Regions from separate parts of the Homo sapiens genome. Here region 2 is linked to region 1. Evidence: fine-mapped expression QTL. A gene starts in region 1. The other region holds a variant in brackets. All regions are shown on one strand. Distances are from middle to middle.

Evidence for each region. PIP is the estimated chance that this variant, and not a neighbour inherited with it, causes the effect. A credible set is the group of variants that fine-mapping cannot tell apart.
Region 2: its variant is the best candidate, but not a certain one, in a credible set for the expression of SETD6 in whole blood (INTERVAL, PIP 0.90).

The regions. Positions count from the first base shown.
Region 1 is chr16:58,512,620-58,517,997 of GRCh38, reverse strand. It overlaps SETD6 (SET domain containing 6, protein lysine methyltransferase), which reads right to left and starts at 2,481. Exons shown (of 8, transcript NM_001160305.4): 1 at 2,434-2,481; 2 at 1,901-2,207; 3 at 1,655-1,796; 4 at 1,326-1,520; 5 at 1,070-1,190. The coding sequence starts at 2,460. NDRG4 (NDRG family member 4) reads right to left here. Exons shown (of 15, transcript NM_001242835.2): 15 at 4,379-5,378. RefSeq lists enhancers at 608-777, 1,427-1,596, 2,637-2,806 and a silencer at 1,857-2,516.
Region 2 is chr16:58,567,392-58,572,769 of GRCh38, reverse strand. All of the region lies in intron 16 of CNOT1 (CCR4-NOT transcription complex subunit 1), which reads left to right. Among named protein-coding and RNA genes, the nearest start is that of SNORA50A, 10 kb to the right of the region's middle. The variant ATG/G (reference allele first, on the strand shown) is at 3,144.

The DNA of each region.
Region 1 (5,378 bases):
AGATTATTTCCACTTAAGAAGAGCCTTCAGCAGGTGTAGTTCAGCCATGACTGATGCTGTTAACTACCAAAGTTCTACCTTTAGTTCCTGTTAGACCCTAAACTGTGAAACAAAAAAGGGTTGGGCTAACTTTAAAAGGCCAGCTTCATGTTTAACTGGGTGGATTTCTGCACAGTCCTCTTCAGCACTTAAAAAGTTGCTAGCTTTAAAAACGAAATTTTCGGCCAGGCGCAGTGGCTCACACCTGTAATCCCAGCACTTAGGGAGGTCAAAGTGGGCAGATCACCTGAGATCAGGAGTTCAAGACCAGCCTGGCCAACACGGAGAAACCCCATCCCTACTAAAAAATACAAAAATTAGCCGGGCATGGTGGCAGGAGCCTGTAATTCCAACTACTCGGGAGGCTGAGGCAGGGAGAATTGCTTGAACCCAGGAGGCGGCAGTTGCAGTGAGCCGAGATCACGCCACTGCACTCCAGCCTGGGCGACACAGTGAGACTCCGCCTCGGGGGGGAAAAAATGGAACTTTCGCAGATCAAAGTGGGAAAGGAAAATGGAGGCAAGGATTAAGAAATAACCATACTTACTAATTTCTGATCCTATAAATGTGCCATCTTTTCAGGCTACTTTTTATATAGAATAGAGCTGGTATAAACACAGCTTTATATCAGTTCTAGGATCGTCTTAGACCTTTGGCCTGTGAATGTCCTCATCCCTCCAAAACACGGAGACTATCACTGTTCCAGGCTGCTATCCACAGAGCCACACACAGTCTGGGCTCACTGATGTGATCAGCCAGAAAGGAATGAAACATGGCTATGCAGACCACTCAATGTCTAGCACTAAATAAATGATGGTAGTATAGTTTATCAGAGGATTAACCACAACTTACTTTGAGGACTTTAAAATGTTTCGCATTCAAATGATTCTACAGTAATATGCATACTAAAAGGACATACAGGAGGAGCTGATTTCACCTACTCATTTTGTAGCACTAGTAAGAGAATGGAGCCTAAGACACAATGGCTTGAATCATGCTCAATCAGTGCACCAAGAGAAACTCCACTCACCGCAGAGTATTCTAGATTGGCGTTGTGATTGGCTAAGTGGTTTAGTATGTCTGCAGCAGGCACCATCACGGGGGAGTTGGGCTCCTTTTCATCCTCTTCTTCCTCCAGTGGTTCCTGAAAGCTGCCATTGACAGAACCTGGCTAAGGCCCTGTCTTGGGTGAGGGACTGGGGGTGGATTTCACTGTTTTTCCACTTTTGTCCCTCTATAGAGTTGTAAAGAAAAGGGTTCCGTCCTCAGAGGCCCCACCCACTGACCTATAGGCCATCACAAGGGCCACCAGCTGGTGGTAGAGTTCTAGGGAGCGAACCCTGAGGCTGAAGAGATCGGGGTGGGCTTCCATGAAGGGCAGCACGATGGACTGGTACTCGCTGCGGATGTTGGCCAAATCCTTCTCCACGGCCTCAGGTACGCCTGTGCCCTGGAGCAGGCACCGGCGCTCCTCCTCTGGCCTGCAGGGACACCCACACCCAGGTTCCCTTCATTCCTTCACACACTTTACTGGGTAGGACTGGTGCAGGGGCGGGGAAACTTCTTGCAGCAGGCTACGGTGCAGGCGCTCCCCAACCCCTCCCAAGGCTCTCACCAGAACATCGGGTGCTCCAAGCGGCCCAGCTCGGGCCAGAGCGCAAAGTAGGGCCTCCAGCGTGAGGCCGGGGCCTGCAGCTCGTGGAGCAGCGCCAGCAGCAGTGGCACCCAGCCCGACTGGCTCTGCAGCGCAACTCGCTCTGAGGAAGACACAGGTGTGAGCGCCCCGGCGCGGCCTCGCGGGCCGGGCCCGCCCCGCCCCGCCCCGCCCCGCCCCAGGGCCCTAGCCCGCCGCCGTGCCCACCTCGCTCCAGCAGGCCGCCGATGGAGCAGGTGTGCTGCGACAGGAGCGCGGCCCGCGGCACCACGAACAACAGCTCTCCGGCCTGCACGCTCTCCCGGGCCACCATGCCGTAGCCGGCCACCGTGCCCTGCCGGCTGACCGCCACCTGAGCAGGAGGGCTGGTCAGGGCAGCCCGCGCCCCGCCGCGGGTCCTCCGCCCGCCGGCTCGCTCGCTCACCTTGGGACTCAGCTCCAGCCCCACCCGCCGGCACCAGCTCAGGAAGCAGGCCACAGGATCCAGGTCGCCGCCGTCCACGGGCCCCGCCACCTGAGATAAGTGCGCGCAGTGACCAGGTCCGACCCCCAGAGAGGCCGCTGGGAACTGCAGGAGACCGCGGCGCGAGCGCAGAACGGGCTTTGGGTGGAGGAGGGGACGAGCGGAGAGGGGCGCGGGACCCGCGGGAGGGAGCGGAGGGGGCGCAGGCGGACGGTTCTGCGAACGGAGAAGGGGTGAGGCGCGGAGGAAAAGGCTGGACCCCGCGCCCGCCACTCACCCGTGGACGCTTCGCCTGGGTCGCCATGGTCTAAGAGCGCGTTTCCTCGCGGGCCGGCGCACCGCGCGGTCACTTCCGGCGTCTCTGGCCCCGCCCCGGCGCCGGAACCACGTGGTGCCTGTTTTGTCGTCCACGCTGCAGACTGGCCGGAGTTACCGCGGGCTGGAATCGTTCCTCATGAAAACATCTTGAGTCCAGGATCTCCAATTGCACTCACGCGCTGCGAGTGCAGAAGGAGAGTCCCGTGCCGCTTGGCGCCTGGTTCTGAGCCAGGTACAGCCCTGGCCTTCGGTCTGTCCCCGAGGGCTGAGGCTTCTTGCGGTCTGGGTGCAAGAACAAAATACGGTTTCTGGATCGGAAGCCGAGGGTCTGGTGGCCGGCCGGTGGTGAGCGACGCAACTGGGCGGCGAGCGACCTCCTGATCTCGACCCCTTGTTGCCGATGGCCATGGAACCCTTTTACTGGTGGTATTCGTTCAGAGCAGTTTTCGTGTGTGTTTCAGAGTGGCGTGGCCTAGAGGGCTCCTGGATCTAGAATAGATCCTCTCTGCCCTTATTTGCCAGTACATCCTCGTTTTTAATCTGCTGCATAGCACGTGGTGGGTTTTATTAGCTGACATAGTAGGGACTCAATATCTACCTATTGGGTAAATAAATGAATAAAACAAATGGTGGTTAAACCTGGGGAAGTAGCATGCTGTTAAATGTAAGAAAATGAGGCTGTGAATATAGAGGTTACAGGAATGGGTTTTGAAGCCAAGCAACGCCGCAGCTCAACACTCAGTTTTTTTTTTTTTTCCTTTTTTTTTTTTTTTTTTTTGGCGCGTTGGGGAGACGGGAGTCTCGCCCAGGCTGGAGTGCAGTGGTGCGATCTCGGCTCACTGCAACCTCCACCTCCCGGGTTCAAGCAATTCCCCTGCCTCAGCCTCCCAAGTAGCTGGGACTACAGGCGTACGCTGCCATGCCCAGCTAATTTTTTGTGTTTATTTTTAGTAGAGTCGGGGTTTCACCGCGTTGCCCAGGCTGGTCTCGAACTCCTGAGCTCAGGCAATCCCCCCGCCTCGGCCTCCCAGAGTGCTAGGATTACAGGCGTGAGCCACCGCGCGCGGCCTGGTCTGTTACTCAGGCAAATCCTTTTTCCTGAACCTTAGTCTCCTCACCTGCGAAACTAAGATAATACCTACTCTGTAGAATTAATGTAAGGATTGGTATGTTGACTAAAGAAAAAATATTAAGCTTTTAAATAATTAAAATTAGTTTTATTTAGAAGCCTTATTGAGGACTATAGACTGAGGCCTGTAGCCCAGGAGTAATCTTGTGAGGCTCCTCTAACACGGTATTTTAGTTTAGGTTATACATAGGTGAAGATTTAGTATGTGTAAAATCATATCAAAGTTTAGGGATAAGTATATCTGGTTATAGATTGCAGAGTATAATCATTAACCCTGTCAGACATGATCGTATGTTTAGGAGAAGGCAAAGAGTAGGTCATTTATCTTTGAAGGAATGTAGTGACTCAGGCAAGAGATTTGGAGGGCAGGGGTGTTTTGTTTTGTCTTTAAGGCATTTTTTTCTGGAGAGCTGTATTTTGTTTTTTTGTTTTATTTTGAGGCAGAGTCTTGCTCTGTCATCCAGGCTGGAGTGCAGTGGCACGATCTCCACTCACTACCACCTCTGCCTCCTAGGTTCAAGCGATTCTCCTGCCTCAGCCTCCCGAGTAGCTGGTATTACAGGCACGCGCCACCATGCTCAGCTAATTTTTGTATTTTTAGTAGAGACGGGGTTTCACCATGTTGCCCAGGCTGGTCTCGAACTGCTGGCCTCAAGTGATCTGCCCGCCTCAGCCTCCCAAAGTGCTGAGATTACAGGCTTGAGCCACCGTGCCTGGCTGAGGAGAGCTGTATTTTGTCACAGAGTCAGGGGAGAAATGAGCACATAAGCAGAAATGAGCACATAAGGCTTTTAATGTTTGTGACATTCTCATCTCACCGGTAAAATAATGTGACGTGTACTGGAAATAGAAAGATGGGTGGAGACCATCCTCTCCTAGCACCCTCAACCCAAAACCCAAGCAGCACCAGCAGCCCCTGCCCAAACATTCTGTTTCTCCAAAAGCCTCCCATGATGGGCATGGCATCACCACACTGGAATTCTTCTTAGGTTCTTTATTAGTTTTTCAGCACAGTTAACTCTTTCTACGTTGACTAGAGTTTTGTTTTACATTTTATCATCTCATGACAGCAGCCACCAGAATACACAAAATTAGGCTCTTTACTTTGTGCGGAGAAGAAAATAATAAACATTAAAAGTTCACCTTGACCAAAGAGACAACCTCCAGAAGAACACCACACATGGGAGGACCCGATGTACACACACACACACACACACACACACACATATAATGTATAGATATTTATAGATACATCTGGAAACAGCAAAAAACAAAATTCCAAGATTTGCAGTGTTATCTACAGTAAGAGGGATGAATTCTACCAGCTTTCAAACAGTCACATTCAGTATTCAGAAGAAGCACATGAGGGGGTAGAACTGGGCAGAAACTAACACGCCACCAGGCTAGTCATGGCTTAAGATTATAGAAGGGGGGTGATGTGTGTAGAGGAAATACGCATATAGGTGTCCTCTCAGCCTCAGAACACCCGCCACAACCCTTCCCCCGTCCACAGCCCTGCATGTTTTCACTGCTCTCTCCCGTTTTGGGGTTTGTGATTATTGATTTAGGGTCTGAGACAAATGGCTCTGGTTTCTGGGCCGCAAGATGCTATGGGGTAAGGTGAGTGGATGGAAAGCATACAACGCAGTCCTGGGCTTCAGGGGACAGCAGGAGGCTGGGGTGTAGGGGAAGCCTTTCTCTTCTACCTGACCCTTGTTCATGTCCAGAACCTTCAGCCCCCAGTAAGCCCCAGCCCAGGCGGCTATGGGGTGTGG
Region 2 (5,378 bases), 55 kb before region 1:
CTCCCAACTAATTTTTGTATTTTTAGTAGAGATGGGGTTTCACCATGTTGGGCAGGCTGGTCTCGAACTCCTGACCTCAAGTGATCTGCCTGCCTTGGCCTCCCAAAGTTGCTGGGATTACAGGCATGAGCCACCACGCCTGGCGTTAACTTAATTTTTGTGTGTGTGTGTATGTCACCCAGGCTGGAGTACAGTGGCATGATTATGGCTCACTGCAGCCTCCACCTCCCCCCTCAAACTCTGAAGTAGCTGGCATTACAGGTATGCACCACCATGCCCAGCTAATTTTTTATTTTTTGTAGAGACAGGATTTCACTGTCTTGCCCAGGCTAGTGTTGAACTCCTGGGCTCAAGGCATCCTACCACTTTGGCCTCCAGAAGTGCTGCGATTGATTACAGGCATGAGCTACTGCACCTGGCCTATCTTTGTAGATCTATCTATTATTGAAAGTGGAGTACAGAAGTATTCAATTTTTTTTTTTTTTGAGATGGAGTTTTGCTCTTGTTGCCCAGGCTAGAGTGCAGTGGCATGATCTCGGCTCACCGCAACCCTCCGCCTCCTGGGTTCAAGTGATTCTCCTGCCTCAGCCTTCCAAGTAGCTGGGATTACAGGCATGCGCCACCACGCCTAGCTAATTTTGTATATTTAGTAGAGATGGGGTTTTTCCATGTTGGTCAGGCAGGTCTCGAACTCCTGACCTCAGGTGATCCGCCCGCCTTGGCGTCCCAAAGTGCTGAGATTACAGGTGTGAACCACCACGCCCAGCCCAATTTTTTTTATTTTTAATTTTTTATTTTTCTGAGACAGAGTCTGCCTCTGTCCCCCAGGCTGGTGTGCAGTGGTGTGATCTTGGTTCACAGCAACCTCCGCCTCCTAGGTTTAAGCGATTCTTGTGCCTCAGTAGCTGGGATTACAGGTGCTCACCATCACACCCAGATGATTTTTAAATTTTTAGTAGAGATGGGATTTCACCATGTTGGCCTGGCTGGTCTCAAACTCCTGACCTCAAGTGATCCACTCGCCTCAGCCTCCCAAAGTGCTGGGATCACAGGCATGAGCCACTATGCCCGGCCTCCTATTATTTTAACTGTCTTTTTCTCCCTTCAGTTTTGTCAGTTTTTCCGTCAGGTGTTTGGGGCTTTGTTTTTAAGTACATGTGTTTTTATAATTGTTACATACTTCTTTATTTTATTATTGTTTTTGAGATGGAGTCTTGTGTCTCGCTGTGTCACCCAGGCTGGAGTGTGGTGGCACTGTCTTGTCTCACTGCAACCTCCTCCTCCCACGTTTCATTGATTTTCCTGCCTCAGCCTCTGGAGTAGCTGGAACTACAGGCGTGCGCCACCATTTCCAGCTAATTTTTTTTTGTACTTTTAGTACAGATGGGGTTTCACCATGTTCCCCAGGCTGGCCTTGAACTCCTGACCTCAGGTGATCTACCCACCTTGGCCTCTCAAAGTGCTGGGATTATGGTCATGAGCCACCGTGCCCGGCCTTAATGGTTACATATTTCTGATGGATTGACCCTTACTGTAAAATGTCTTTGTCTCTATTAACAGTTTTTTTCTTAAACATTTGTTTTGTTTGATACTAGTATAACCATTATAGTTCTCTTATGGTGGTTTGCTTGGTATATTTTTGTTTTGTTTTTTGTTTTGTTTTGTTTTGTTTTTCTCAAGCTATATGTGTCTTAATTTGAAGTAGGTCTCTTTTAGAGAAGGTATGGTTGGAGCATGTTTGTGAATTTGTGTTTGTGTTTACTACATTCTGCCTGTCTTGCATTTAATGTATTTATTGATAATATAGGGCTCTTTTGCTGTTAATCTTTCTATCTCTTGTCACTTTTGTTCCTCTGTTCTTCCATTACTGCCTGTCTTACTGTTAAATAGATATTTTGTAGTGTACCATCTTAACTCCTATGTTTCTTTGACTTTATTTTTTGTTTTGTTTCTTAGTGGTTGCCTTGGGTATTAAAACTAACATTTTAACTTACTCCAATCTTTTAGTTTCGGTAGGATCCAAAAATTTCATTTAGTATGGCTTTGTCCCCTTCCCCTTGATTTTTGCCATTATTGTCATGCAAATTATACCTTTATACATTATGTGATCACCAAAAGGTTTATAATTCTTGCTTCATGCAGTTATTTTTTTGAGACAGGGTTTCATTCTGTTGCCCACGCAGGACACGATCACAGCTCAGTGCAGCCTCAACCCTCCAGACTCAAAGCGGTCCTCCCAGGTAGCTGGGACCACAAACATGTGCCACCACACCTGATAAATTTTTTAATTTTTTGTAAAGTTGAGGTTCTCAGTATGTTGCCCAGTCTGGTGTCGAACCTCTGGGCTCAAACTGATCTCCCGTTTTAGCTTCCCAAAGTGTTGGGATTACAGAAATGAGCCACTGCACCCAGCCCAGTTGTTCTTTAATTAGGAGATTTATACTGTCCTTTGTATTTACCTGTGTATCTTTGCCAGTAGTTTTTCATACGGATTCAGGTCAGTGTTCAGTGTTTTTTCATTTCAGCCAGGATTCTTGAATTTTTCTTGTTTCAGCAGGACTGCTAGCAATGAATTACCTCTTTTTGTTATCTAGGGAATATCCTAATTCCTCCTGTATCTTTGGGGATAGCTTTGCCAGATGAAGGATTCCTGGTTGGCATTCCTTTTCTTTGAACATTTTGAATATGCTCCCCCACTGCTTTCTGTCCTCCATGGTTTCTGATGAGACATCAGCTGTTAATTTATTGAGTATTGTATGTGATGAGTTGCTTCTATCTTGCTGCTGGTAAGATACTCTCCTTGTCTTTTTTCTTTCATCAGCTTGATTATGTTATTCTAGGTATGAATCTCTTTGAGTTTATTCTACTTAGAATTTATTGAATTTCTTGGGTGTCTAGATTAATGTTTTTAATAAAATTTATCGGGTTTTCAGTCATTATTTCTACAAATCTTTCCGTACCTTTTTCTTCTCTCCTTGTACTCCCATTATGTTTGTGGTGGCACACTCAGTAGTGCTCCACATGTCCTTGAGTTCTCAGCCCCCATCCCCCCACCCCCTTTTTTTTCATTTTCTCAGGCTGGATAATTTTAATTGATCTATCTTCAAATGAACTATTTTGTCTGCTTGAATGTGTGGTGGGAC[ATG/G]TGGTTAGTGAAACTTTATTACAGTTACTGTACTTTTTCTGTTTGGTATGTTGTAGAGTGTAGTATCTGATGGGAAAAAACGAATTTCTGTTTTTTGGTTTTTTTTTTTGCTAATTTCTATGGACATGCTTTTTGAGATAGTATTCCTATGTTTTCCTTCAGTTCTTTTGATATATTTTCTTTTAAACGTGTTCTGTAGTGGCTGGGTGTCATGGCTTCAGCCTATAATCCCAGCAGCACTTTGGGAGGCCAAGGTGGGTGGATCACTTGAGATCAGGAGTTTGAGACCAGCTGGCCAACATGGCAAAACTCCGTATCCACTAAAAATGCAAAAATTAGCCAGGCATAGTGAAGGGCGACTATAGTCCCAGCTACTTGGGAGGCTGAGGCAAGAGAATTGCTTGAACCCAGGAGATGGAAGGTACACTGAGCCGAGTTTGTGCCACTGCACTCCAACCTGGGCAGCAGAGTAAGACTCTGTCTCAAAAACCAAAATAAAATGAAAATAAATGTGTTTGGTAACTGATTTGAATTCCTTGTCTAGTAAGTCCAACAGCAGTGTTTCCTCAAGGATCATTTCTACATAGCTTTCCAGCCCTTTGCATGGGACACCCTTTTGTTTCTTTACAAGTCTTGTAATTTTTTTGTTGAAAACAGACAACTTTAAATAATATGGCATTTCCTGGAATCAGATCTTCCTTCTTCAGCAGAGCACATTGTTCGTTATTGCCCTTTTTTTGTTTAGTGACTTTCCTGAACTAATTCTGTTCTTTATAATAGTTGGCTACTGAAGTTCCTGCTTGGTTAGCCTTGTTGTCAGCTAAGATTGACGAGATTTTCTTAAACCTAATCTTGGGAATCAATTCAGCACTAAGCCAGGCAATTCACAGCCACCTTAGTCTTTACTTCCAAAGTTTTTTTTTTTTCTCTCTTTTTTTTAAAATCGAGACGGAGTCTCGCTCTGTCGCCCAGGATGGAGTGCAGTGGCACGATCTCGGCTCACTACAACCTCCACCTCCGGGGTTCAAGCGATTCTCCTGCCTCAGCTGAGTAGCTGGGATTACAGGAGCATGCCACCACGCCTGGCTAATTTTTGTATTTTTAGTAGAGACAGGGTTTCACCATGTTGGCCAGGATGGTCTCGATCTCTTGACCTCGTGATCTGCCTGCCTTGGCCTCCCAAAGTGCTGAGATTACAGGCTTGAGCCACTGCACCCGGCTCAAAGTTTTTCTTTACAGATTTTTTTTTTTTTCTTGAGATGGAGTTTCGCTCTTGTTGCCCAGCCTGGAGTGCAGTGGCACAATCTCGGCTCACTGCAACCTCCACCTCCTGGGTTCAAGTGATTCTAATGCCTCAGCCTCCCGAGTAGCTAGGATTACAGGCATGCACCATTACGCCCAGCTAATTTTGTATTTTCTTTAGTAGAGACAGGGTTTCTCATGTTGGGCAGGCTGGTCTCAAACTCCCGACCTCAGGTGATTCGCCCGCCTCCCAAAGTACTGAGATTACAGGCGTGAGCCACCGTGCCCGGCCTTCTTTACAGATTTTTAGTTAGCCTGTATGTAGTTTGCTCCAACTGTAGTAGTCTTCCACCTCAGATAGGCAATAAGTTTAAAACAGTTACTTTCAAATGTTTTTTGTAAACACCTCATGCAGAAAAGGTTTTTGTTTGGGTCAGTTTTCAGGTCAAATAAATCCAACCTTGTCATTGTGTTCTCACACAGACTCCCTATACAGATGAAATAATGACAATTCACTGAGAAGGAGGCTTTGAAGATGTTTTAACCCTGTTTTGATTCACCTCTCAGGCTTCTGGTTTTCATTGTGATTGAGGGCTGTCAGCTTCTAAGCTGGCTGTGGAGCTGGAGATGGGAATAATAGGGCAAATTAATGTGCTAGAAAACTTGATAGTCTCTTGAATAAAAATTTCCCACTTGTTATAAGCCTTTGGTTAACTTCCAAAGTTCTGAAAAAGTTGATTCAGACACTTTTCTAGTTGCTTTTATGAAGGAGAGGAAGTCAGCCCATACCCTGTCGTTTTGCTTTATGAGAAGGTTTTTTTTTTTTTTTTTGAGATGATGTCTTGCCTCCAATTACCTGGGATTACAGGTATATGCTACCATGCATGCCTATTTTTTAAATTTATTTTTATTTTTAATTTTCTGTGGAAATGGGGCTTCACCATGTTGCCCAGGATGGTCTCAAACCCCTGAGCTGAGGCACTCCTCCTGC